Homo sapiens: one gene and its partners. The protein of the gene in region 1 interacts with the protein of each later gene in a biochemical or structural test. Each region holds a gene or a part of one and is shown in the gene's direction. Other genes may lie near its edges. The genes, in order: DLG3, FOXI1, GYPC, MTMR1, SORCS3, ARHGEF7 and SCN4B.

Region 1 (3,500 bases):
GAGGCCATCTCTGTGGGTTGGCCAAATCACCCCTGTGTTTCTGACCCCTTCCCTTGCCTCTTCTTGCATGGCTACTACATATTGAAAACCATGGACTCTGCTGCCAATCAGCCTGTGGGTCACCAACTTCTCCCTCATGGGGAATCTTGTCTACCCTGCTCCAGTCCCACCCGTGGCTTTGTCTCTGACTCCTGACCAGATCCCACCCTCGCCCTTTCTGCTGGGAAAAACAAAGGGCTCAGAATCAAAAATCCTTTGGTAGAAAATGGATTAGGACTTTGACTCCTTCTGCCTATTTGAGGAATTGGGTTCCTGGAGTCCAAGAAAGAGGTATAGAGTGAAGACTCACGAGGTGCTCCAAAGTGGGGCAACTGTCCTTTTTCCCATGAGCTCTGCTGGGGTACGGGGATGAGTGACCAAAACATCAGTGGCCTTAAGAGCTTACTGTAATCAAAAGAACACCTGGATATCCTATTGCTCTGTCACTAATTCCCAGTGTGCCCTTAGGCACATCCCATGTCTTCTCTGGGCCTCCGTGTCACCTACTGTCACATAAAGGGGATAGGACAAGATGATGTCTGCTGTCCTTCCAGTTCGGACACAGTGGGAGTCTATGATCCCCCAGTCAGGGAGAACTGTGGTTCAGAAGGGGAAGGGTTATCTGTCTAGGCCACTGGGTATCCCCTATGGACACTGGGTGTGGCATGGTTTGCCTGCCATGCTCCATCTCTGCCATCCCCCTTAGGCCAGGCCTGCACCCCTCCTAGTGAACCCTGAGACACTGAAGCACAGCCTCTCGGTGAGTGCACCACTGGCTGGCTCAGTCTCAGACAATTGATCTGGGCTAAATGAGCAGCTTGGTTTGGGCTGATATGGTTGGAAGCAAAGCAGGGATTGGTGGGGTGAGTGAGGAGCGGCCTCTTCCAGGTCAGCCTGTCCTCATCTGTGGCCAAGAGGTGACCTGGGGTGCACTTGGGCTCTTCTACTCTGTGGGAGTAGGGGAGGAGGCAGGTTGACTAAGGGGCAGATGGCTGGAAGGGCAGGGGGCACTAAGGGAACTGCCTGTGTCTCCCCCTAGGTGAATGGCAGTGATGGCATGTTCAAATATGAGGAAATCGTACTTGAGAGGGTGAGTCTGCCAGTGGGGAAAAGCGGAAAGGGAAGGAGAGGGTTGGAGCCAGGATAAGGGAGACCCCTGAATCATGGTTTCAAGACCCATGGGGGGACCTGCATTTAGAGGATGGTGAAACAGCGGCCCTCAGAGGCTGCTTCACTGCATCAATCAATCAACCCACTAACAAATATTAATTGACCTTGCTCACTGAGGCCTGGGGAATTGGGGAGGGGATGGGTTTCCCAAAATGATCAGCAGAGGCTGGGTGTCTGACAAATGTGCCCAGCCTGCCATGGCCCCTTCTGAGGCCTGGAGAACTAGCTCTGGGATATAAGGGGAGATGAGGTACCCAGAACTCTCCTTTGTGCCCTCAGAGTGAACAGACTGTGCCTTTCCACCCACTTCTGCAGGGCAACTCTGGCCTGGGCTTCAGTATCGCAGGTGGCATCGACAATCCCCATGTCCCTGATGACCCTGGCATCTTTATTACCAAGATTATCCCTGGTGGAGCAGCTGCCATGGATGGGAGGCTGGGGTGAGATGGCCTGGAAGCAGGGTTGTGGGTGGCAGGGACAGGATCGAGATGAGGGGAGGAAAGCCTGCCTGGCAGGATGACCCTTCCATTAGATCTGAGGGCGGGGTGGGAGGGCAGAGGAGGGGAGGACAGAGAAGTGGGAGGAAGCAGGAGAGGGGGTGGAGGGGTAGGGGCACAGTGTCATGCCTCTCGGGCTTCCCCCACAGGGTGAATGACTGTGTGCTGCGGGTGAATGAGGTGGACGTGTCGGAGGTGGTACACAGCCGGGCGGTGGAGGCGCTGAAGGAGGCAGGCCCTGTGGTGCGATTGGTGGTGCGGAGGCGACAGCCTCCACCCGAGACCATCATGGAGGTCAACCTGCTCAAAGGGCCCAAAGGTGCGGCCCTCCAGGTTCCTGTGCTCCAGCCAGAGCCTTAGGCCCCAGATCCCATCTTGCCCCATAGGGAATTGGAAGGGAATGGCCTTACTCCTTGCCTGACTCCCCCTGTTCCAACTCACAGCCTACTTTTTTGACCTCAGGCCTCACCCTTACTCATCTCAGGATGGCAGCTTAGCGTTTGGATCCCCCGGGGGGAGCTCCTGTGGGGCCAGTGGGTTGGCTGGGGGAGGGGGTTTGGATTTGGGATCGACAACACTTTAACCTCTCCTTGTGGCCCTCTCCCACCTCCTGCTGGCTCCCGCTCAGGCCTGGGTTTCAGCATTGCTGGGGGTATTGGCAACCAGCACATCCCAGGAGACAACAGCATCTACATCACCAAGATCATTGAGGGGGGTGCTGCTCAGAAGGATGGACGCCTACAGATTGGGGACCGGCTGCTGGCGGTGAGACAGACTTCATGGGGATGCCCAAATGGTAGGGTAGGGAGGAGGAGCTCCAGTACCCCTTACTCCGCCTAAACCTCACTCAGGGATGAGGCATCATGGGGGAATTTCAAGAGTTATCATCTGTGTTGTGTTTGCCCAGATACAAAGGCCCTAATTCTTTCTGTGGCCAGGGTCTTGCCCTATCCCCTACCTCCTGCCTCTGCTCCTCACAGCACTATACTTGGGCCTTTGTTAGCATGCTGTTGAATTTCACTGAAAAGGCATCCCTCGAGTTCCCTGGAGAAGCCTCTCCTTCTTCCAAGTCCCAGCCTGAGGCCTCTCCTCTTCTAGGTGAACAACACCAATCTGCAGGATGTGAGGCACGAGGAAGCTGTGGCCTCACTGAAGAACACATCTGATATGGTGTATTTGAAGGTGGCCAAGCCAGGCAGCCTCCACCTCAACGACATGTACGCTCCCCCTGACTACGCCAGCAGTACGTACTCATCAGCCCCTGTCCCTGGTCTAAAGCTCTGTCCCCTGGTTTCTGGAGGGGAAGAAGTTCATACCCTTTGTTAAGAGAGGGCAAGCAGCTTTGCTCAGTGGTGGCACTGTAGCAGCCAATAAGGTTTATCTGAGGCGCCATTATTGCTAATTGAAAACTTTGCTCAGTACCCCATCGTGAAGACTTGCCATAGAGTCAGCATTGGCAATTTTTGACAATTTCTATGGAGAGTGAATTTTAAAAAGAGGAGAGAGAGAAGCCGCAGAGGATAGTGCACAGAACTGAGTCCAGATCCCAGTTCTGTCTTTGTTTTTTTGTTTGTTTGTTTGAGACGGAGTCTTGCTCTGTCGCCAGGCTGGAGTGCAGTGGCACGATGTCAGCTCACTGCGAACTCCACCTCCTGGGTTCAAGCAATTCTCCTGCCTCAGCCTCCCGAGTAGCTGGGATTACAGGTGCCTGCCACCATGCCTGGCTAATTTTTTGTATTTTTAGTAGAGACGGGGTTTCTCCATGTTGGCAAGGATGGTCTCGATCTCCTGACC
Region 2 (4,239 bases), on another chromosome or scaffold:
AGGATGGAGCCCAGATAGGAGAGGAGCTGGCTGAGCCACAGGGAGAAGCCAGCAGGGGCTGCAGCTCCTGCTTCTGGAGCCTGAGGGAGAGAGAGAGAGGACGCCTGGGGCATGGTGAGTCGGGCGCTCTCCTCGTGCCCTGGCTGCCTCCATGCCAGGGGCCTCTGCGAGCTGAAACATGAAAGGTCTTTGGATCAGAGAGGAGCTGGGAGCCTGCTTGCCCTGCAGCTGGAAAGAAACTTGAATTGTTCAAGTTCTCTCACTTTTCCCTGAAGACTGATTCCCCATTTTCCCCTTTTGCTATTATTTTTAAGAGCCTTGCTGCTCTCCAGGCAAATTCTCAGGTTCTCTGCCCGTCTGCAGCATGTATGCATATGCGTGTGTGTGTGCGTGCGTGTGTGCGCGTGCGTGCGTGGGCGTGTGCGCGTGTGTGGGCGTGCGCGTGTGCGTGTGCGCGTGTGTGCGTGTGCGCGTACGCGTGTGTGCGTGTATGTGTGTGTTGGGGGAGGCTGCGGTGCCTATGACTGGTTGCCCCCTTGAACCCCACCAGAAGCCAGCCCAGGCCCCTCTGCGCCCTCTTCTGAGTCTCCAGGGCCGGTTCTCTCCTGGCAACTCCAGAAAGTGCCTCCTCACCTCAAAAGACCAAGAAACAGGGTTTCTGATAAAGTGTCCCACCCAGTCCCGGCTGGGGCAGTTGGTTAGAGAATGAGGGGACATTGGGGGGAAGAGGAGGGAGAATGAGGGGATGGGAAGAGAGGCGCAGAGAAAATGAGAGGTGGAGAGAAAGGGACAGAGTGAAAGAGAAGGAGAAAGGGGAGAAGCCGGGAAGACAATGAGAATGGAAGCGAGAGATGGAAGTGGAAAGAAGAACTGGAAGCCTAGAGACAGAGGGAGAGAGGGAGAGAGGGAGGGGGAGAGAGAGAGAGAGAGAGAGAGAACGGGAATGAGCAGCTGTGATGTGGCCAGATCAGTTCATAGAAAAGAAACACAGTTCAGAGCAGAAGGGAGGAAAGAAAATAAGAAGGAAAGAAACAGAGAATGAGATGCAGAGAGGAGAGGAGGGAGAGAGAGAAGGAAACCGAGGTGGGTAGAAAAATGTGACGAAAGGGAAGGACAGAAAAAAAAATGAGAGAAGTAAGACAGAATAAAGGAGAAAAAGAAGAAGGGAATCATGAGGATGGTGAGAAAAGACAGGAGAGAAAGCCGGGAGAGAGGATAGAGGGGCGTTCTCGCTGCGCTGCGTGTCAGCTCTGGTAAGCCGTCTAGCATGTCATTAGTGGGGACCTGAGGCGCCAGCGGGAAAGTCCCCTCCCCGTGGGCTGGAGGCTGAGGGAGGGCGGGCCCTGGGCTGGGATCCACAGGCAGGTGGCCGCCCCTGGGTGGGGCCGCCCGGCCAAGCCCTAGGGGTATAAGTGGGAGGCCGGGCCTGCTGAGCACCTGTCAGGGGCAGCTCCGGGGTGCAGGTGCCAGGCAGGTGGCTCCGGCCAGCCCAGCCCCAGCATGAGCTCCTTCGACCTGCCGGCGCCCTCCCCACCTCGCTGCAGCCCCCAGTTCCCCAGCATCGGCCAGGAGCCCCCCGAGATGAACCTCTACTATGAGAACTTCTTCCACCCACAGGGCGTGCCCAGCCCTCAGCGGCCCTCCTTCGAGGGGGGCGGCGAGTATGGGGCCACCCCCAACCCCTACCTCTGGTTCAACGGGCCCACCATGACCCCGCCACCCTACCTGCCCGGCCCCAACGCCAGCCCCTTCCTGCCCCAGGCCTATGGAGTGCAGAGGCCGCTGCTGCCCAGCGTGTCGGGGCTTGGGGGGAGCGACCTGGGCTGGCTGCCCATCCCCTCGCAGGAGGAGCTGATGAAGCTGGTGCGGCCACCCTATTCCTACTCGGCTCTCATCGCCATGGCCATCCACGGGGCACCCGACAAGCGCCTCACTCTCAGCCAGATCTACCAGTACGTGGCCGACAACTTCCCCTTCTACAACAAGAGCAAGGCCGGCTGGCAGAACTCCATCCGCCACAACCTGTCGCTCAACGACTGCTTCAAGAAGGTGCCCCGCGACGAGGACGACCCGGGTAAGGAGGCTTTGAGTGTGGGGGGTGTCCCCAAGGAAGACTCACTTCCTTCCTCCCCAAGACCCCATTCTAGAAAGTTCTGACTAGGGCTGTGCCCCCCAAGACTGGGGGATGCTACCAGGCAGGACAGAGGGGAGCTCAGCAGTGAAGGAGAGCATGGGCCTGGGGGAAGATTTGGGTTTCAGCCCTGGCTGTGCTCCTGCCCAGTCAGTGACCTCTGGCAGGTTAGACCTCAGAGCCTCAGTTCCCTCATCGGAAAACCAGGGATAGTGACAGCATCTGCTTTGCAGGCTGCAGTGGAGGTGATGAGATAATGTACACAAGGTTTTAGGTGTTATCAAGCGCTTAATCGCCTGCAGTAATTACGATTCATCTGCATCTCCAGCACCCAGCACATAGAAAGTCTTTGGTGAATGAATGACTGGACCAACCAAAGCCCAAGGGCATCCCAAGACTGCCAGGAAGAGGATCTGACCTGGGTTAAACAGCCACTAATGGCCCATTTTGCTGCCTGCCTTGTTTCTACTTAGGTAACCTCCTTTAACCCGAAGACACCCCTGCAGGGTAGCTCTTATGAAACCCATTCTACAGATTAGGAAAATAACACTCAGAGGTGACACAGAATGAAGTGATAGTGATGGAGCTTGAATTTGAACTCAGTTTTCTCTAACATCAGAAATTGTGAGCTTTTCCTTTTCAACGATGCATTTCTAAAACTCAGAGACCTGCAGAGAGGCATGTATTAAATACTCATGCATCCATTTCCCAGAATTAAAGTCCACTTTTGTTCCACCGCAGGAAGCCAAGGTATAGCTCAAAGGAACCCCAACTCTGCCCCATTTGAGGGTGGCAAACACCAGGCCTGTTTGTCCCCAGAAGAGGGCAAGTGTCCTGTCCAAGGACTGCCATCACCCTCAGGCTGAGAGACGGTAGCAGGAAGAGTTCAGGCCTTCCCTCGGGAAGGTACCTCCCAGCTGCAACGCTCCTTTCCATATCCGGTGTGGATCCTTTCTCAGTGGGCCTGAGGAAGACAGGGGCAATGGGCCCACTTTTCAGACTAGAAAACAGGTTCTTCCAAAGCCCCTCAGTCAGTGAGGAGCAAAGCCAGGACTCAAGTCTGTCTTCAGACTCCAAGCCTACGGCTATTAGGGAGTCCCAGAGTTTTCCTGAGTCTTCTTTTCCTTCAGCATTGAAAGCCCTCCAACCCCCAACCCCCAAATCCCTCAGCATCCCTGCTCCCAGTTCTTCATCCTTCTTAAAGAGACCTACATTGCAAACTCCTTAATGCTCATGCCTCTCGGCTGCAGTCCCAAAGGGCCCTGTCATGGGCTGCTTAATTAAAGATGGAGGTGGTGTGGTTCATCAGTTGATGGAATTCCTCCATTTCTCAGTCCCTGCCTGTCGGTCTCTGTCTTCCTGCATCTGTCACCTTGGCTTTTAGTTTATGACAATAAGGAGGAACAGAAGCAAAGCATTTTGTCCACCTCTCTATTTACCCCCTTTCACTTTTGTATCAGGCAAAGGGAATTACTGGACCCTGGACCCCAACTGTGAGAAAATGTTCGACAATGGAAATTTCCGCAGGAAAAGGAAGAGAAAATCAGATGTTTCCTCTAGCACAGCCTCCTTGGCCTTAGAGAAGACAGAGAGCAGTCTCCCGGTGGACAGCCCCAAGACCACGGAGCCTCAGGACATCTTGGATGGAGCCTCACCAGGGGGCACCACCAGCTCCCCAGAGAAGCGGCCCTCCCCTCCCCCATCAGGCGCCCCTTGCCTTAACAGCTTCCTTTCCTCTATGACAGCCTATGTGAGCGGGGGGAGCCCCACGAGCCACCCCTTGGTCACACCAGGACTGAGCCCTGAGCCCAGTGACAAGACGGGGCAGAACTCACTGACCTTCAACTCCTTCTCCCCGCTCACCAACCTCAGCAACCACAGCGGTGGGGGTGACTGGGCGAACCCCATGCCCACCAACATGCTCAGCTATGGAGGATCTGTGCTCAGCCAATTCAGCCCTCACTTCTACAACAGTGTCAACACCAGTGGTGTCCTCTACCCCAGGGAGGGCACCGAGGTCTAGGTACAGAACAGCTCCTGAGCCAGGTGGACATGCCAGAGAGAAAAGCAGTAGAGGTCCTCCATGCCAGCCCCACGGTGGTCCATGA
Region 3 (3,500 bases), on another chromosome or scaffold:
GAGATGAGGGTAGACTGACCAGGCTACTTAGACTTCTCCACCGTCTCCCTCATCCCACATTATTTTCTTCCCTGGGTCCATGACCCCCAACCCTCCATCCTCAAGGAAACTTGAGCCTGCCTTTGCCTTGCTTTGAACCCTGAGCAACGGGCTCCCCATGGGTCATGGCTGTGACTGCAAACTGTGTTTGAAGAACAACCAAGTTTGGGAGGTGCTGTGTGCTCTGCGACCTTCTTTGAGATCCACACTTCTCAGCAGCTTATTAATAACTCAGGAAACATCTACAATTTGAAAAGAAAGAAAAAGCAGCAGAAGCAAGCAATCAAAGACACCTGTTGGACTCTGTGTAACCTGGCATTCTCCAACTCATTGCACCACTGAGCTTTTATTCTTCCTAGGTGATATTATTAACATTATGCAGATACAAGTGTTCCCCTGAAGGCAGTAGGAAGTTTAGGAAATTGTTCTATAAAGGTGGGACTTGGGAGCAGTTTCAGACTTTCCATATTCTTCAGCAGTCCCTCCCCAAGGCCTCCAAATAAACCTGCATTCTAAGAAAAGACAGAGGCTTGCTCTGCAGCTTCAAAGTAAATGCCCAAACTCAAAACACCCCCACCCCATGAGACTGCTGCCCCCTCACTCTCAAGGTCCTGAGTGATCTGACCCCTCCTGAGCAGCCTTACACTGTACTTCCCCACCCCTCTGGAGTCCCAGCAGAAGTGAGGGGTGACTGCCCCTCGCACAGCCAACACCTTGGCATTCTCTGCGTTACCCTCTCCCACTTCAGTCCTTTGTGTGGCCAAGTCCTGCTCCTCCTGCAGACTCACCCCAGTCCTCAATCGCCAGGAGGGAATGGGAGCAGGGTAGGCTGAGGAGCAGTCATCGGGCCATTGAAAAACACAAACCACACAACCTGCCCCAAGCACAGTTAATAGCCTCATTTTTCCCCCTGTATAGTGTACATACAGCAACCAGCTCTGCCCTGTTTTCTGGGACTTCCCTGGTTTTAGAATGAATAATCTCCAAGCAGTGTTCTTGCAACTGTTGCAAGGACCATGTTAAATTGCTTTAAATGTTGAGACCTGCACCTGGCACCTAGTAAGCGATTGTTAGTTGTTTTAAAGGAAGAGGAAATAACAGTCTCTTCTAACGCTGATTGTGTTGGACAAACTGTCCTAATAAATGCTGTCTTCACCTGGAAAATTTCTGAGGGCAGTTCTGGGTATTTGAGCTTCTATAACCATCCATGCCTACTTAAGCAAGGTGTTATTCTTTCTTTCTGAACTTTGAGGTGCTTGTTGATTGGAAAAGTCTAGAACCCCACCACTAAATCCATTCATTTATATATGCATGCATTTACTCATGCATTCAGTGAATATTTATTGAGTACCTACTATGTGCTAGATACTAAACTGGAGGCTGCACTTGTTCACTCTATATAATAAAGTCTAGCACCCACTTGAACTTGCTACGGCCCTTGCTTCAGGTCTTGCTACTGAGAAACACCGTGAATGCTGGATCCTATACCCTGCCTGGTTCCTGGCTCCCGAGACCCAGATCCTGAGCCAGTGTTCACTGGGTCCCTGGGCTGCCTCAGTGCCTTGTATTATCTTCTTCCCCACCTCCAAGCTCCTTGGTGGCCCCAGACACCCCTAGCTTGGCCCATCTGTGTCCTGCTGTGGACCCCTAGCTGGGAGTCTGTTTTCCCCTCACCCATTATGACTCCTGACTCCAGCAGGCAGTTACTTATAAGAAAGAGGCATCTGGCAGCTGCACTGGGGAGAATGACCTCATAGCACTATAATTAAAGTGATTATCTGAGTGGAAATGACTATTATGAAGCATCCTTCTCTGTTTTATTATGTAGAGCCATTGTAATGGGAACGTGGGATTTCCTATGTTAACACTGATATTTCTGTGATCCAATAAATCCTTCTTCACAATCATCTCCCAGAGGAGAGAAGGCATTCTGTGCAGCAGCTCTAGGAAACATCCCGGTCCCCAATGTCCTAGACATCCTACCCTCTTTGGCCAGGTCATTAAGCTGTGAAAAAACACACTCAGTAACTTGGATAGTGTCATAGAGTGGTCCTTCCCACAGCAGAGTCAATGTAAAGACCTATGGGAGGGCTTCAGGAATGACTCCTCAGACAGGAGCCCTGGGAAGGGCTTCTCCAAGAGAGAAAGTGCACTCCAGAGGCAAGAGCACTGGCCAAGTCCTGACCTGATATCGGATGAGCTGTGTGATCAAGGGCACATCACGTCTCTGAACCTTGGTGTTCTTCCTGTGAGATGGGCCATTAACACCAGGCACCTCATAGGATGGATGTGAAGACTGCATGATAGAGTAGATAGAAGGCAGTTAAAGCAACACCTGGTGCTATGGTTTGGATGTGGTTTGACCCTGCAAAAGCTCATGTTGAAATCTGATTCCCAAGGTGGCAGTGATGGGAGGTGGGACCTAGTGGGAGATATTTGAGTCACAGGGGCAGATCCCTCATGCATACATTAATACCCCCTTGAGGGAGGGAGGGAGTTCTAGCTGTCGTGAGACTGGATTAGTCACTGGAGAGCAGGTTGTTATAAAAGCAAATTCAGCTTTCTAAACTCTCTTGCTTTCTATATCACCTTGTGGTCTCTTTGCGAATGTCAGATCCCCTTCTGCTTTTTGCCATGAGTGGGAGTAGTATGAGGCCCTCACCAGATGCAGCTGCCCAATTTGGACTTCCCAGCCACTAGAACTGTGAGCCAAATAAACCTCTCTTCTTTATAAATTACCCAAGTATTCAGCTATAGCAACACAAAATGGACTGAGACACCTGGTGTGAGCATCAGACACTCCACAAACATTCTTTCTTAAACACAACAAGAGTCCCTGCCTTCATACACAGCACAGATATCTGTTGAGCATCTACCACGTGCAGCACCACTCTCAGTGCAGGCATTAGGCAGATAACTCAAATGGGCCTGGAGTGACCTGGTGGTTCAGGTTCAAACAGTTCCATCCCAGTCAGTGACCAAGCAGAACCTGGTTCCTGGTCTGTGCATCCCTGCTAGGAGCAGTGGGTGCGCCGCACTGCTCCTTTCCACTTGGACCCATTCTCAGAGCTGCTCACACCTGAGCAAAGGATGCAGCTTGGGCCAAGGTGCTGCTAGGCATGGAGAATCTTCCTCTCTGACCTCAGATTCTTGTCCTCTGTTCACAGAGCCTGATCCAGGGATGTCTGGATGGCCGGATGGCAGAATGGAGACCTCCACCCCCACCATAATGGACATTGTCGTCATTGCAGGTGAGCTCTCATCACAGAGCCCTTCAAGCAGCCAGGGTGGGGGGCCTTGGTGAAAACATCCAGGGGAGAACTGACCTAAGGACTTGGGCAGTGGTGGCTGTGGCCATTTTTTCTCTCCCTCAGAGGTGGTTTTGAATGTGGAATGGAGGAGTCTAGCCCTGGGTAAATATATATATACATGCATACATCGTACGTATCTATGTATGTATT
Region 4 (3,500 bases), about 80 Mb from region 1:
CTAGTAACTCAAATGTTTTCGGGATAGCAACCTCTTCAAATCTCATATCGAATTTAAACTATTATGTAACCCTTTGAAGTAAACCTTTTCCATCGAAGTCCAATTGTCCCTTGGTATCGGTGGGGGATTGATTCCAGGACCTCTGCCTCAGATACCCAAATCCATGGATGTCCAAGTCCTTTATGTCAAATGATGTAGTATTTGCATATAACCTAAGAACATTCTCCCATATACTTTAAATCATCTGTATATTGCTTATAATAACTAATACAGTGTAAACACTATGTAAATAGTTGTTATACTGTATTGTTTAGGGAATAATGACAAGAAAAAATGTCTGTGCATGTTCAGCACAAATGCAACCATCCTTTTAAAAAATATTTTCCATCTGCAGTTGTTCGAATCCTCCAATGTGGAACCCATGGATAGGAAGGGCTGACTGTATTTCTAATTAACGTGGACCTATAACCTAAGTGATTGTTTGTCACATCTCAGAGAAGTCAAGTGAAAAGCAGAGACCAATACATTTCCCCAGTTTGTTGTTTTAAGACTACGTTCAGAACAATGTGGATGGTCAGAGACTTCCTAAAGGGACAGCAGTGGCCCATAAATTCTGTGATTAAAAATGAGATTAAGTTTCTTGGCTATCTTGGAATTTTTATGTTGAGCTGGGCTTATTTGTTTATTTTGTACCCTTCTTCTAATAATTTAAGTAGAAATGTGTGTGATAACTTTAATCACGAAGTCATGTAGGACCCACTCCTAATTGATGTATTTTATTCCCAGTGACTTGACTTTGGTAATGTTTACCAAAAACCCTACCTGAAGTACCAGAAAAGAGATCCTGCCTGCAGGATCATCAGCGCCCCTTCCAAATTTTGGGTTAGGATTCCTTACAATCTATTTATTTTGATTCAATCTCTGAAGATAGCTCCCTCTGGTTGGTCCTAGACTGCGTTCAAAACCATTTTTTTTTTTTCCAAAGAACCCTTTACTCTTCCAGATCATGAATCTGTTGGCTTACTAAACTCACTTTAGTCACTCCCTGACAACTGTCCTTCTCAGGCAGGGTTCCCCATATGGAACAATGGCAAGCAGAGGGGTGACTTGATCGGTTCTGCAATTTTGAAACATGTCGTCCCCTTTCTCATGACGCTTGAGTATCTTCCCATTATCCTTAGACTAAAAGAAAAACTCTCCTTACAAGACTGCTCTGCCTGACCCACTTTCCTCTGCAGCTTGGTCTCGAACTGCCCTCCTCTCATTCTGGCCATCCCAGTCACATGGGCTTTCCTTTGGTGGTTCATACTTGACACACCCACCCACACACACACACACACACACACACACATCCCAGAATCTTTGCATGTGCTCTTTCCTTAGCTTGTAAGCAATCTTAAATAGCAAGTCAGCTCAGTCAGCCACCAAGGTGTATGTGTGTAGCCATGTAGCTTAGAGGGAGGGCATGTCAGGAAATTATGTTGCTTAGGCAGGCATCCTGGGGCTCTTTTACTAAGATATTTTTATGGCTGGGGTGAGCATTTGCTAACAACTGCTTTAAATGTTCTCTAACCTAGATTACTAAGGTAATGCTCCCAGCCTTCTCAGATCATGCCTAAGAGCTTTACAAGGTGTGGGGTTTATTTTTTAACAGGTGATATACAATTCAAAAGATACAAAAGCTGTGTATAGTAAAAAATCAGTCTCCTTCCACCCACCACCCTGCCACCCTGTTCCACTCATTTCAGGCACCCACTGTGGCCGATTTCTAATGTAACCCTCCACAGATAGCCTATGCACATGAGAATGTATGTATAGTCCTTCTTTGAAAACATAAGTGGGGCCAGGCGCAGTGGCTCATGCCTGTAATCCCAGCACTTTGGAAGGCCGAGGCAGTTGGATTACGTGAGGTCAGGAGTTTGAGACCAGCCTGACCAACATAGTGAAACCTTGTCTCTACTAAAAATGCAAAAATTAGCCGGTAGTGGTGGTGGGTGCCTGTAATCCCAGCTACTCGGGAGGCTGAGGCAGGAGAATTGCTTGAACCAGGGAGGCGGAGGTTGCAATGAGTGGAGACTGTGCCGTTGGAGCAGGATAAAGTATAAAAGGAGAAATGAATTAAAAAAAAATAATTTCCTTATTTATGGCACGGTATCTGGCTTATAGGTGCCTGATGTATGTTGAATAACCGAGTTTTGCTAATTGTTTAACAGGATATGAGGAACTTGCGGCTTGCTTATAAACAGGAAGAACAGAGTAAACTAGGGATATTTGAAAACCTCAACAAACATGCATTTCCTCTTTCTAACGGACAGGTAAATACACCAGAGTAAACCTTTTCTGCATGCATTTGTGGGGGTCCAAATATCCTATGTTTAATTATTCCTTTTTCCAGAGGTTTTTTTTTTTCCTCTCTTTTTTCCTCTGTTGGTGACTAATATTAGAATATTTGAAATTTGTCAGTTCTGGGTAATGCTTAAGAAAAGCTGCTACTTTGTTGCTGTAAAATTTACAGACTAAAATAGGAATCTTAATACACTCAGCTCATATTAGAATGAAAAGCTTTAATATTGGGTATATGATATAAAAAGAAATAGTAACATATGTGTTTTGTGGTTTTTGTGTCCAGGCACTATTTGCATTCAGCTATAAAGAAAAATTTCCAATTAATGGCTGGAAAGTTTATGATCCAGTATCTGAATATAAGAGACAGGTAAAGTATATTGCTTATCAAACTGAAAATAATAGGTTGAGCATCTTTTTCTCTTCTAAAAGGTTAGAAATGATGTGGTGGAGAAGAAACTTTTTCGAACAAGTTATGCACAGGTTTAACTGCTAGCTTATAGGTTCTCCATCTTTCCTTGATTCTCTCTTCTCCCTGTGCCAAACCTTAGACTTTGTCATGTTTGTTCATCCTGTTTCCAGAGGGTGAGTGGGACTCAAGGACAAGGACGGGTTTAAAAACCAAATTTGCCAGATGGTTTTTATTAGATGTTCTGGTAAAGAATTGATGAGTAAGGATCCAAACCACTGACTACAGTTAGATTCGAAGCATGTGGTGTGACTACATCTGTCTGATCCAGTGTTCCCGGGTCTGGGAACTCTTCAGTGCATTGTCAGCTTCAAATTATTCCACTAAGATCTTATTTTCATGACGTTTGTTTCATGACGTTGTCTCTACCTTATATTTGGTATAATGTTTTACGTTACTTATTTTAGACATTCGTAAGAGGTATCTGTGTTTCTAAAGGACTTTTGAGTATATTCTCAAAAATAACAGAGCTCATTATTTATAGAAAATAGGACAAGAAATATATAGAAATGTGATTCTAGCGTATAATTTTCATGTTTTAGTATGGTTTGGATATTCTTATGCTTCTTTAGATTTTTAGAAATGTCTAGGAAATGGGTTTTACCGAATAAATATATATATTGACTTTTAAGTTACAATAAACAATAAATTATAAACGGATTTTAGTTGCAAATAAGAAATGGATGTA
Region 5 (3,500 bases), on another chromosome or scaffold:
ATAACTGCCTCTTTAGCCCCTAGGCTGGACCTGTCTCTTCTGACCACATTTTGTAGGCAATACGAGAGAGAGATCCTTGATTATCAGGTCTGTGAGCCTGTGTAAAGAAGATGGAGAAGCATACTCACATGGCCCTGTCTTTGAGACTTTAAGGAAATCTCCTGGAGAGTCACTGGGAAACCAGTTTCAGCAACATTGACCCAGCTGGTTTTTCTCCTGTCCCCCTTTCCTGATGGCAGGAAAAGAAGGTGTTGTAAATAAAAGCCAGGGTGAAGAGTGATGGGGATGAGGACACTTTGGGAAGATTCCTTCATCATTGGTTTCAAAGTGGAGGGAGATGTCCGTAAAACAGAGAACATGGGGCCTAGCTCCAGGCTCTTATGACGTGGAAAGAGAATTTTATCTTTTATTCTGGCTTCTGGAGTATTAGACATGTCCTTATTCAGGAGGCCACCAGTTTAATTTTTAACACAATGAGGGTTTCCTTGCTCTTCTTCCAAGTGTCTCTGATGCACCTGATTGCTTGATATGAGTTCCCTTTTGGGGAGCGTTTTCAGTAACCCTATGAAATTGAAAATTGAACTCCATTCTGACTGAGTTTACAGTCAGGGATGCAGGGTGGGACATGAAGGAGAAGGGCCTTCAGCCCACCCCATTGGTCCAGTGTGTGCCCCAGGTGGTTGAGGGTGCAGGAGGAGACCCTTGACCAAGGCTTGGGCTGGGTATTTGCCTTGGTCCCAGGACTGAGAAGAGATGGCTTTGGGGACAAAGGAGAAGGAGTGCAACTGGCTTTGGGCAAAGGAATCAGGAGGGCATGGGATCTGGGTACCACCTCTTGACCATGTTGCCTGCCAGGTGCTCTGGCTGGAAAGTGAGTGGACTTGGCCTTGGACCCTTTACTCTGGAGGAGCGATTTGCTATTTTTTCTCTCCAGTTGCCTCCAGCTGGAATCCTGGTGATTAATGGGTTAGAGAGTGTTTCAAAAACACCCAGAGGGAGCCCAGTCCCCGTGGCTTACAGGGAAACAGAAAAACACATTATTCTGTCCTTTTCCTTCAAATGAAAGAAGAAGCCTCCCTGCTTGCTCAGTGAGTTGGCAAATGGCTCTGGAGAGTGGAAAGTTGTGAAGGCACAGTCCACTTCTCCACACCCCCTCCTTCTTGGATTAACCCTTCATGGGGCCCCCATTCCTGGTGCCAAGGTGAAAACACTGCATCTGCCCTCACATTGGTCTTCATTTCCTTCCAGCAGCGCACTCGAAGTGGCAGCGATTTGCAGGCTGCTGCCCCTGCAGTGTATCTGCTTGGAATACTTGCCAGGTAGTTCTCAATTAATGGGCCCAACACTGCATCTTGGTGAAGAGAAATGGGGAGATGCTGATATTTCTAGGCCCTCCCAGATCACCCTGCCCTGAGCGTACTAGTAGGTGTAACACAGATTCTCCCAGGCAGGATTTCCTACCCTTAACTAATTCAGCTGGACTGTGTTCTAAAATATTTACTCCTAATGTGCAAAATAGTGACAGATTTGATCAGATTAATTGTATTTCACTCACTGGATCATCTAATTGTGGCTCCCAAACAGATTTTTCAAATAGCTTTTGGCTGGATTGCTTGTCTTCATCCTCCCTGCTCACAGTTCCTGTGTCACAATATCTTAATGCATTCTGCCTTTTTGGAGGCTTAATAAAGAAGCTTGCCACAGAAGCCATTCTTCAGGGTTTTGCCAAAAAAATTGTTTTCAATTAGTATTACAAGGGGAAACCATCTCAGTTGAGATGTAGCTGGGAAATGCATGGGGACATAACGGTACTAATTGCTCCTGGTCATTGTTGGTCTGAGGGGCCGTAGGGAGAGGAGGAGCTGGGCACAGCCTATTTATCTGCTCAGTGATTTCTCTGATGGCTGGATTACAGGATGTGATTTCCTTCTCAGATCCTTCAGTGATTTCCAAGGTGAGCAGAAGTTGCAGATTCCTTAATTGGGAGGCCTGATTTAATGATTACAGAAATGCAGTGGCTGGAACTTGCTTTGTAGCTGGCAAAGAAGGAATGCCCGGGAGTGGCTTCTCCAGTGGTGTTGGATTTAAGGGAAAGGGAGGGTGACTTCAGTGGCAGGAAGGCTCAGTGGACAGAAGGGAAAATTGCTTTTTCTTTGGGCTGTGTAAATCTATTGTCAGTGAAGGAATCCTGGAACTGGATGATCTGTGGGCCCTGAATCATCTCATAAGGAGCAGAGAGGTGCAACAAAGCAGACACTCTGTGATAGAAAGATTTGGCTGGAGACTAGTGGTTTATCCAAGGCTAGGTATAGATTGGCTAAGTCACTTAAGGCCTGTGGCTTGACCTACCTGTTGATTTCCCGCTTTCTGCCTTCTTTTGGCCTCTTGGCTGGTTTGAGACACTTCCCTTACAGGGAGAAAATGTCAAAGGAGGATTCTGCAGTAAGTTTGAAGGAGAAAAGAGGCCTTGTGGAGGAGGAGGTGGGAGATATAGAATGTGAGTGCCTAGTGGGTCACTAGGCAGTTCTGGTAAGCAGAACTGGCTCTGTGGGATGGATCGAATTTGGCTAACCAAGTTTATTCTCCTGGTGTTGTGGGTAACTGAGAAAAGGCTCTGGATAGGGCTCTGACTTTGTTGGTAGTCAGTGGAGATGAGGGAGCTTTGCCTTACACATGGTTGGCACTTGATAATGTTTGACTGAGTGAATGAAAGACAGTCTCAAGTCTCATCAAGCAGAGGCTATAAAGGAATTAGAAATTGTTGTTGCCTGGGATAGCAATGATTTCAGAACTTGACAGCTACCATAGCCAGGAGTGTTTCATCCAGTGTGTCTACATTCTGGCTTGAGGAACTTCGGTTTCTTAAATTCAGATCCAGAGTCCATTAGCCTGGCATTCAAGGCTATGTATGTCCCGGGTCTACTTCTCCAACTTTGGATTTGACTCTTCCCTGATTGACTCCTGCATTCTGGCCAGGGCAGCGTCTTCATTGTCCCAAGCATCTTGAGGTCTGTTCCACTTGGGGTACCCTTCTTTCTTGATGAAAGGGCACCTGTTATTCATAGCTCAGTTCAACATTCAGACTCAGTGGCTCTGTGAAACTTTCCTTAGAAGCATTTATTTCTCTTTTCCCCTACTTGTTTATAGAATTTGCAGAGTGCACCACACATTTTGTCATATTTAGTTTAGTACTTACTTTAGTCTTATATTATTTGGTGAGTGATTTGAGGGTAAGAGCTGAAATAATTAAAACAGCACCCCTTCCCTCCAATCACCATCAAGTGCGAGTTCTGTTCTTCTCATCCGTGCCTGGCAGCATGTGCCGTAGGGTAGTACATAGCTCAGTAATACTGAACTCACCTGGGGAGTTGGACTGTGCCTTAGCTGCAGGGTAAGAGGAGAGGAAAGAAGATCATTTTGCCCTAAGATAACTAACAGGTTAACACTGTCTCTTAATAACACTGAGTTTAGACAACTGGTGTATTATTTCATGTATGAAT
Region 6 (3,500 bases), on another chromosome or scaffold:
AACACTGTCTGTCTTTTCCCCGGGAGCCCTTGATGGTTCTGGTGTCCCCGAGACCTCTGGCAGTAGCCAGCTTGGCTGGGGTGGTGCGGTGGGAGGCTCCTGTGAGACCAGAACCGGAAATTGGCTTGTTTCTCAGTTTTGCTGTTAGGATTTTCATGTTTATTTTAGGACATCGTTTACATAATGAGGATATAAAAGTATCTTTTCCTTTTAAGGGAAAACCTCTAGACTAGGAAAATTTGTTCCTAGGATTTGTGCCATGGGTATCATTTGAACCAAGCTCTGCTGACTAGAGACCCCTATCTTCTAGGATGGGGCGTGGTGATGGGGCGGGGGTCACCTGGGTCTCCTGGATGGGATGTGGTGACTGAGAAGTCATCCTGGTCTGGACCTGGCATCGGCTGCCAGCGCTGGTGCTGCCTCCCCTCCTTTCTGTGGGCTGTACACTGTCAGATGTGTGGACTGATGGCACATGCAATTTGAGGGACAGCAGACCCAGGGCCTGACAGAGACCTCAGAGATCGCCAGTGAAGGGGTGTTGCGGTCAGGTGACTGTCAGCCTTAACAAACGTGTGGGTGAAGAGCTGGACCCCCCACAGAAGCCTGCCCGTGTCCTCTGCCACAGCCATGGGAACTCTGAGGACAAAGATGACACACATGAGGACCCACTGTAGGGAAAGATAGGCGAGGCACTGTGAAGGGGATGGTTGAAGAGGAATACAGAAAGTTCTAAAACTTGTTTCTGACTCTTTAATTTTGGGATATGCACTGTTTCTATGTCCATACACAGGGACACCTTCCTTCCTTACGTGTTGTGAGGATTGAATGTAACAATGCTTTTGAAGTTCTAAAGCGTAAATCAACATTCGCTGTCTGCACACAGGGACCCCTTTCTTCCTCACGTATTGTGAGGATTAAACTTAAAGCTTTTGAAGTTCTGAAGCCTAAATCAGCGTTTGCTCTCTTCTCTTGCTGCTTCTCGTGCTCCTCACCCCAAGAGCCATTGCCTACTCCCAGGCTGAGTGCTGGCAGCACATAGGTGGGGCCTGCTCGCTGGACGAACTCGCATCTGGGGATGACTACCATCAGTGTGCTCTAGCTCTTTACCGGAGCAGCTCGGTCCTTGTTCTACCACCTTGAGACTCTGAGATTATTGGAATCCATTCTGGCTCTGAGTGTGCATGTTTCCATTGGATATGTCTGCATGGCACTGATGTGCTGGAGGACCTCGCCATCAGTAGGATCTCATGGAGACCCACATGTCCTGTGCTGTGTATAGTTATTGTTGCTCATATGAGAGCAGGAACGGGACCCCTTAGGGATGGGAGTCCCCTTTGGCATTTCCAGATAAGCAGCGCAGATTTGGGATAAAAGCTGGAGCCTTCCAGATGTTAAAAGCAACACTTATGTTTCATAAATTCTGGCTGTTGCTCATGGAGATGAGAGAGCCACCATTGTCTCTCATTGCTAACCACGAGTGTCTCTCTTGCCACTTGCTGCCCAGTGAGGAGTTGGGGGAGTTCATGGAGACCAAAGGTGCCAGCAGCCCTGGGATTCTCGTGCTGACCACGGGCCTGAGCAAACCCTTCATGCGCCTGGATAAATACCCTACGCTGCTCAAAGAGCTCGAGAGACACATGGAGGTACTGCGCTTTCATTCTCTTACTTGGAGTCCTTACCAAGGGTTAGTGGCATGGTCAGACTTACTGTGAAAGAAAGTATTATTCATGATTTATTTTAGAAGCCAGAACCAACAGAGTTTACAAAGAGTTTTGTTAAATATTATGTTTTTCTCCTTATTCCAGCTCTATTAGAAAACATTTACCCCTTATCTCTCTTTTACCCACTGCTGCTGATTGAAAAGTTTCCAAAAGCTGAAACATGAGAACTGATTTTCAGATAGTGTTGAGATGTCTTACCTGGATCATCCAGCTACAAACAATGTGTGCATAGGTTATAGGGTAATACTGTACTAATCATTTGATGAATGATTGTGCTCTTTTAATTTTGAATAACAGGTTGCAGCCTAGCAGAAATTTGGGTTGAAGTTACTCTCTTGGCTTGAGTTGGCAAACCTTTTCTATAAGGGGGCAGACTGTAGGGTCTTCTTCACGGCTACACAGCTCTGCCATTTTAGATACTGTATGTGAGCCGTGGCAGTGTTCCAATAAGACTTTATTGATGAAGCAAGTGTTGGCTTCCCCACCCCTGCTGCTTGTGACTGTTCTCTTCCAACTTATATTTCCCCAAAGTCTAATGGCTTCGTGATTTGCTGAAAGACTGACACTTTAATGCTGAGGGAAAAAGGGAATGTTAAGGGTTGAAAAGTGTTAGAAAAGTTTCAAGCTGGTCTGTAGAAAGTACCTTTTTAAGAAAAGCTTTTCCTTATGAAAGCTAATTGTATGTTTCTTTTACTCAAAGGATTATCATACAGATAGACAAGATATTCAAAAATCCATGGCTGCCTTCAAAAACCTTTCAGTAAGTGATTAAGCATATTGTTTTCCCCCCCAGACATTATTGTGACAAATGAATGTAAAAGAATTATCAACTGAAAAAGTCAAATGATTAAAAAATGACTTGTGCTGACATGAAAGAAAAACAGAGTCGGCATTCTGTGGCTGGTAAACTCCTTTTAGTGGACTATGATAGAATAATTATTTAAATTTTTTAAAGTCACTGTGTAATTGATGTTAGATCTACTTTAAAATTGTTTAAAACATTTTTTTACCCTTCATTCATGTTGTCTTTAATGATTTATTGCAAAACAGAACAATGGTGGTTCCATTTTCTCTGCTGTTGTGTTGTCTTACCAACTGCGTTTTGGAAATATATGGCCTTATTTTATAGCACAAGTTATACTTTCTGTTTCTTCTTTTCAGTCTTCCATATTGGCAAACACGAACAAAACCAGAATGAAAATACAGTTCTTGTCCTGTCCACATTTCTTTTTTGTACAAGTGGCAAAATGTGCTCTATCTTTCTAAAATAATACTTAGTATTCCAGAGCAGTTGTGTGTGTTGCTTCTCTTAACTTGGTTTCATACTTCTAAGCAAATACTTTCAATTCCCTATAATTAAGCAAATCGCTCAATAAATTATCTGTCTGAAGAAGTAAGATATAAAGCAATAATTGTCTTAAGGATGATACAAAGCAATGTGGCCGGAACTTAACATTCTGAAAGTTTATGTCTGTTAACAGTGTTGTTCTGTGTCTGTCAGGCCCAATGTCAAGAAGTCCGGAAGAGGAAAGAGCTTGAGCTGCAGATCCTGACGGAAGCCATCCGGAACTGGGAGGGCGATGACATTAAAACTCTGGGCAACGTCACTTACATGTCCCAGGTCCTGATTCAGTGTGCCGGAAGTGAGGTACTGCTGCCCACATGCACGCACCAGGGTTTCTGTCCCACTCTTAGGAGCTCATAGCAGAAGATTTTAAAGGCATCTCAAGCGATGAAAAATGTCTAATAGAAGCTCTATCTTATAATTTGTGAGCTACT
Region 7 (3,500 bases), on another chromosome or scaffold:
TAATATAACTTAAGCCCTGGGGAGAGTAAAGGGAAGATTCTTCCAGATGGAGGCACCACTGAGAGCCAAGGCAGAGAGTCTGGGAAGTGGGCTTGTCTGGAGAACAAGCCTTTTGTTTGTTGAGAGAGCTGTATGGTGAGGTGGTGGGGAGGAGAATAAAAGCCTGCAGAAGGGGTTGGGGACAGACACTTGGGGACCTGGGAGTCGAGGCTGTGATTGACTTCCGACGGCAGGGGAGCTGGCGAGGGCTTGCAGGGCCCTGGCACGATCAGAGAGCACAGAAGAAAGGATCTGGCCATGGTGGGCGGAGGGATTGGGTGGAAGAGCCTGGGGGCAGGGGACAGACCGTAGGGAAGCCTGAGGGAGGTCCTTGGAGTGGCGGGGAATGCCTGCATTACAGCAGAGACAGTGGCTTCTCAAGAACAGGGAGGTACTGGACAACATCTCACCATTGATTCTGAAACGTGGGTGCTGTTTCCTCTGTCTGGAATTTACCCTCTCTCTTTTCCTGCTCATCTTTCTTGGTTTCAAAGAAGCTTGGAAGTTTAAGGTATACTTCCAAAAAGCTTCCCTGACTCCTATGAGGAGGCTTCCTAGGTTGGGTCCCTCCTTCCTACATCCCCCATCCTGTTATTTACCACAGTGTGTCACAATCACTTGTTTAATGTCACATGCCCTAGGAGAGTGCACGTTTCCGACACAGTGCCTGGTACCCAGTAGGTTCTCAGTAGAGAATTATGGACTGCGTGGAATACAGTTCGGTGGGTCGTAATTGGCTGGGTTAACTATGCCTTAGGTACAGAGACAGAAAGAAAGAAAGAGAGAGAGACAGAGAGAGAGAGATGGATCCATCCGAATAGAGGTCTTTAGTGTATTCCACAGGGCTCCACCTGTTCATTGTTATTACTAACATTTGAAGTACACTAGGGATGTCACATTTATCAACTTCCAGAAGCCTAGTAACTATGTTGGAAGAAAAAGGGATCTAGGAAGATCTTGATAGGCTGGAGCTAGGAACTAGGTATTGCAAGATGAAATTAATGAGGACAAAATATTCAGTCCTTCCCAAAGGCCTCAAACCCAGCTGCCCAAGCCCAGGGTGAGGGTAGGATGTAGTTTGGCTGTAGCAGCTGTGAAAAACTTGGCCATTTTCATGAGCAGAAAGCTCAGAGGGATGCAGGTGCTCCCTGGGGAGTTCTGTGTGCCCAGCCTGGGCGCTGCTGTGGAGGAGGGACACACTGAAGTTGGAGCATGTCCAGCTCAGAGCGGTCAGGGTGGAACGCCTCCCGGGAGGTGTCTTCCCATCTCACCATCTCTCCTTCCTCCTGTCTTCTGCTCCGTCCCACCAAACTCTGCCTAGACCTGTCACCCTTGAAGCCAAACCCACTGCCTGCTCTGCCCCTTCCATGGACTCTGTTCTTCCCTTAATACCTCTAGTCACGGAGAGCTCAGGGAGGAAGGCCTGGGGGGCCCTGGGGAGAGGGACTCTGTGTCCTCAGCATACTCCTTGCTGGCCTGGACCCCTCCCCCTGGCGTGGCACAGCCTGGGAACTGACCCCTGAGAACAGCACCTGGTGCCCTTTGCTTCCTGCCATGTTGAGACAACTAGGTGACAGCTAAGCTTTATTGAGAACTTTCTTTTTTTCTTTGTTTGAGACAGAGTCTCGCTCTGTTGCCCAGGCTGGAGTGCAGTGGCACGATCTCAGCTCACTGCAACCTCCGCCTCCCAGGTTCAAGCGATTCTCCTGCCTCAGCCTCCCTAGTAGCTGGGACTATAGGCGCCTGCCACCACGCCTGGCTAATTTTTGTATTTTTAGTAGAGATGGGGTTTTGCCATGTTGGCCAGGCTGGTCTCGAACTCCTGACCTCAAGTGATCTGCCTGCCTCGGCCTCCCAAAGTGCTGGGATTACAGGTGTGAGCCACCGCACCTGGCCAGTTGAGAACTTTCTACATGGCAGGCACTGTTCTAAGTGCTCATTTCTCCTTCCAGCAACCCCACGCAGAAGGTCATCCCTACCTCTATTTCACAAATGAGGGGACTGAGGTACAGAGAGGTTAGGTGACATGGCCTCTGGCTACCTTAGCTCTGTAGAAGGCCAGGGAGAGGCACAGGGCTGGGTGCAGGGCCCACGGCTCCTGCCACAATTCTCCCCCTACTCTTGCTCCTCTCCTCACCACTGTCCCTTCTCTCTCCCTCTCCAGGAAGGAGTGTCTCGTGAGCTCCTCGGGGAATGACAACACGGAGAACGGCTTGCCTGGCTCCAAGGCAGAGGAGAAACCACCTTCAAAAGTGTGAGCCCTGCTTCGGGCTGAGCAGCTGCAGGGAGCCCCCTTTCTGATGATGAAACTGATGCTTGAGCCCCGACCGTAGAACCCACGTGCCTGAGACATCTGCTGCTTGGCTCAAACTGTAGTCTTTCCGGGCACAAGAAACCAGAGTCCTGCCCAGCCTGCCCATCCCCTTCCCAGTCAGGGCTCCCCAGGGACAAGGGATGGCCAGGGGAGGGGGTCTGTGGAAGATTCAGGAGAAAGAAAGGAGAGGCTAGGGTGGTGTGGAGGGGCTGGTCCCCTGACACCTGGGCAGATGGGGTCTCCTTCAGTCTCCCTACCCTGCACAAGCAGGGCCTTGATTTTCCTCCAGGCTTCTCTTCACAAGAGACTGGGAGGATCCGTAAGGGATGTCCTAAGAGCTGCACCCTGGAGATGGGGTGTAGGAAGAAGTGGCTTCCTTTGGAGGTGGGAGTGGGCTGGAGGCCTCTGGAGAAGACCTGGGGTGGGGGCTGATGGGGGCAGGCCCACAGTGAGAGACTGCCTCTGCTTCATAGGATACCAGATCCCCCACAGTCTTCCAAGTAGGAAACTTCCTTTCCCCTGCCCCGGGACCCTATCTGCCTATCCCCTCCCCTGCTCAGAGTTTTTAAGCCCTCTCAACCAGGGCTGGCCACCCTGGTCTTGAGGGTTCCTGGCCACCTAGCCTGCTCCTCTGCTCTCTGGGTTACTGAGGGGCTCAGGAAGGGGCCCCTCGAGCCTTCCTGGAGTACCCGAGTGCTCCCTATGCCTTTCCAAGCATTTCTACTTGGGGAATTGGGCCACAGAGGTAGTGAGCCAGTGTCCTGGGCCTCTGGGATGCCCGCCCCATTGCTGCCAATGCTGGCAGCCCCTCCCCTGGCATGGCAGGACCATCGCCACTCTGGGCACTCCTGAGCCCAGCTCTCCCCTGCTTCTCCCCCTCCTACCTGAGAGGCTGCACCCTCCAACCTCCCATTGGCTCGCTCCCCCCCCCCCACCGTGCCCTCCATCACGCCCTGCCCCCAGGGTGGTTCATTTCCCAGCCCTGGGTCAAGGGCCTGCCTTCGCCTCAGGGACTCTCTTCCTTTGGATGAGGGGGTCCTTGGGTTTCCCAGCTGCTTCCTGCTCAGCTGGGCCACCCCCTCCCACCCTGGGGTTGGGGAGGAGCAGGGAGTGGGTGCCCACAGTTTTCCTTTGCTTCTCCCAGAGC

What was found.
Region 2: the proteins of DLG3 (region 1) and FOXI1 interact in a test that uses a peptide from one of them, tested with the Homo sapiens proteins (one large-scale study listed by IntAct).
Region 3: the proteins of DLG3 (region 1) and GYPC interact in a test that uses a peptide from one of them, tested with the Homo sapiens proteins (one large-scale study listed by IntAct).
Region 4: the proteins of DLG3 (region 1) and MTMR1 interact in a test that uses a peptide from one of them, tested with the Homo sapiens proteins (one large-scale study listed by IntAct).
Region 5: the proteins of DLG3 (region 1) and SORCS3 interact in a test that uses a peptide from one of them, tested with the Homo sapiens proteins (one large-scale study listed by IntAct).
Region 6: the proteins of DLG3 (region 1) and ARHGEF7 interact in a test that uses a peptide from one of them, tested with the Homo sapiens proteins (one large-scale study listed by IntAct).
Region 7: the proteins of DLG3 (region 1) and SCN4B interact in a test that uses a peptide from one of them, tested with the Homo sapiens proteins (one large-scale study listed by IntAct).

The regions. Positions count from the first base shown.
Region 1 is NC_000023.11:70,447,835-70,451,334, forward strand, and holds part of DLG3 (disks large homolog 3), read left to right. Parts: intron 1-1,078; coding exon 1,079-1,129; intron 1,130-1,524; coding exon 1,525-1,649; intron 1,650-1,855; coding exon 1,856-2,025; intron 2,026-2,334; coding exon 2,335-2,471; intron 2,472-2,804; coding exon 2,805-2,949; intron 2,950-3,500. UniProt on the Homo sapiens protein: Required for learning most likely through its role in synaptic plasticity following NMDA receptor signaling.
Region 2 is NC_000005.10:170,104,458-170,108,696, forward strand, and holds the start of FOXI1 (forkhead box protein I1), read left to right. Parts: upstream 1-1,439; 5' UTR 1,440-1,500; coding exon 1,501-2,074; intron 2,075-2,459; exon of another isoform or gene 2,460-2,604; intron 2,605-3,591; coding exon 3,592-4,154; 3' UTR 4,155-4,239. UniProt on the Homo sapiens protein: Transcriptional activator required for the development of normal hearing, sense of balance and kidney function.
Region 3 is NC_000002.12:126,690,658-126,694,157, forward strand, and holds part of GYPC (glycophorin-C), read left to right. Parts: intron 1-3,206; coding exon 3,207-3,290; intron 3,291-3,500. UniProt on the Homo sapiens protein: This protein is a minor sialoglycoprotein in human erythrocyte membranes. The blood group Gerbich antigens and receptors for Plasmodium falciparum merozoites are most likely located within the extracellular domain.
Region 4 is NC_000023.11:150,727,896-150,731,395, forward strand, and holds part of MTMR1 (phosphatidylinositol-3-phosphate phosphatase MTMR1), read left to right. Parts: intron 1-2,213; coding exon 2,214-2,315; intron 2,316-2,629; coding exon 2,630-2,713; intron 2,714-3,500. UniProt on the Homo sapiens protein: Lipid phosphatase that specifically dephosphorylates the D-3 position of phosphatidylinositol 3-phosphate, generating phosphatidylinositol. Could also dephosphorylate phosphatidylinositol 3,5-bisphosphate to produce phosphatidylinositol 5-phosphate.
Region 5 is NC_000010.11:104,644,290-104,647,789, forward strand, and holds part of SORCS3 (VPS10 domain-containing receptor SorCS3 precursor), read left to right. Parts: intron 1-3,500. UniProt on the Homo sapiens protein: Plays an important role in modulating synaptic transmission and plasticity in the hippocampus, probably by affecting the trafficking and localization ofAMPA-type glutamate receptors in the postsynaptic density.
Region 6 is NC_000013.11:111,272,310-111,275,809, forward strand, and holds part of ARHGEF7 (rho guanine nucleotide exchange factor 7), read left to right. Parts: intron 1-1,504; coding exon 1,505-1,643; intron 1,644-2,421; coding exon 2,422-2,481; intron 2,482-3,222; coding exon 3,223-3,369; intron 3,370-3,500. UniProt on the Homo sapiens protein: Acts as a RAC1 guanine nucleotide exchange factor (GEF) and can induce membrane ruffling. Functions in cell migration, attachment and cell spreading. Promotes targeting of RAC1 to focal adhesions. May function as a positive regulator of apoptosis.
Region 7 is NC_000011.10:118,135,824-118,139,323, reverse strand, and holds part of SCN4B (sodium channel regulatory subunit beta-4 isoform 1 precursor), read left to right. Parts: intron 1-2,203; coding exon 2,204-2,297; 3' UTR 2,298-3,500. UniProt on the Homo sapiens protein: Regulatory subunit of multiple voltage-gated sodium (Nav) channels directly mediating the depolarization of excitable membranes.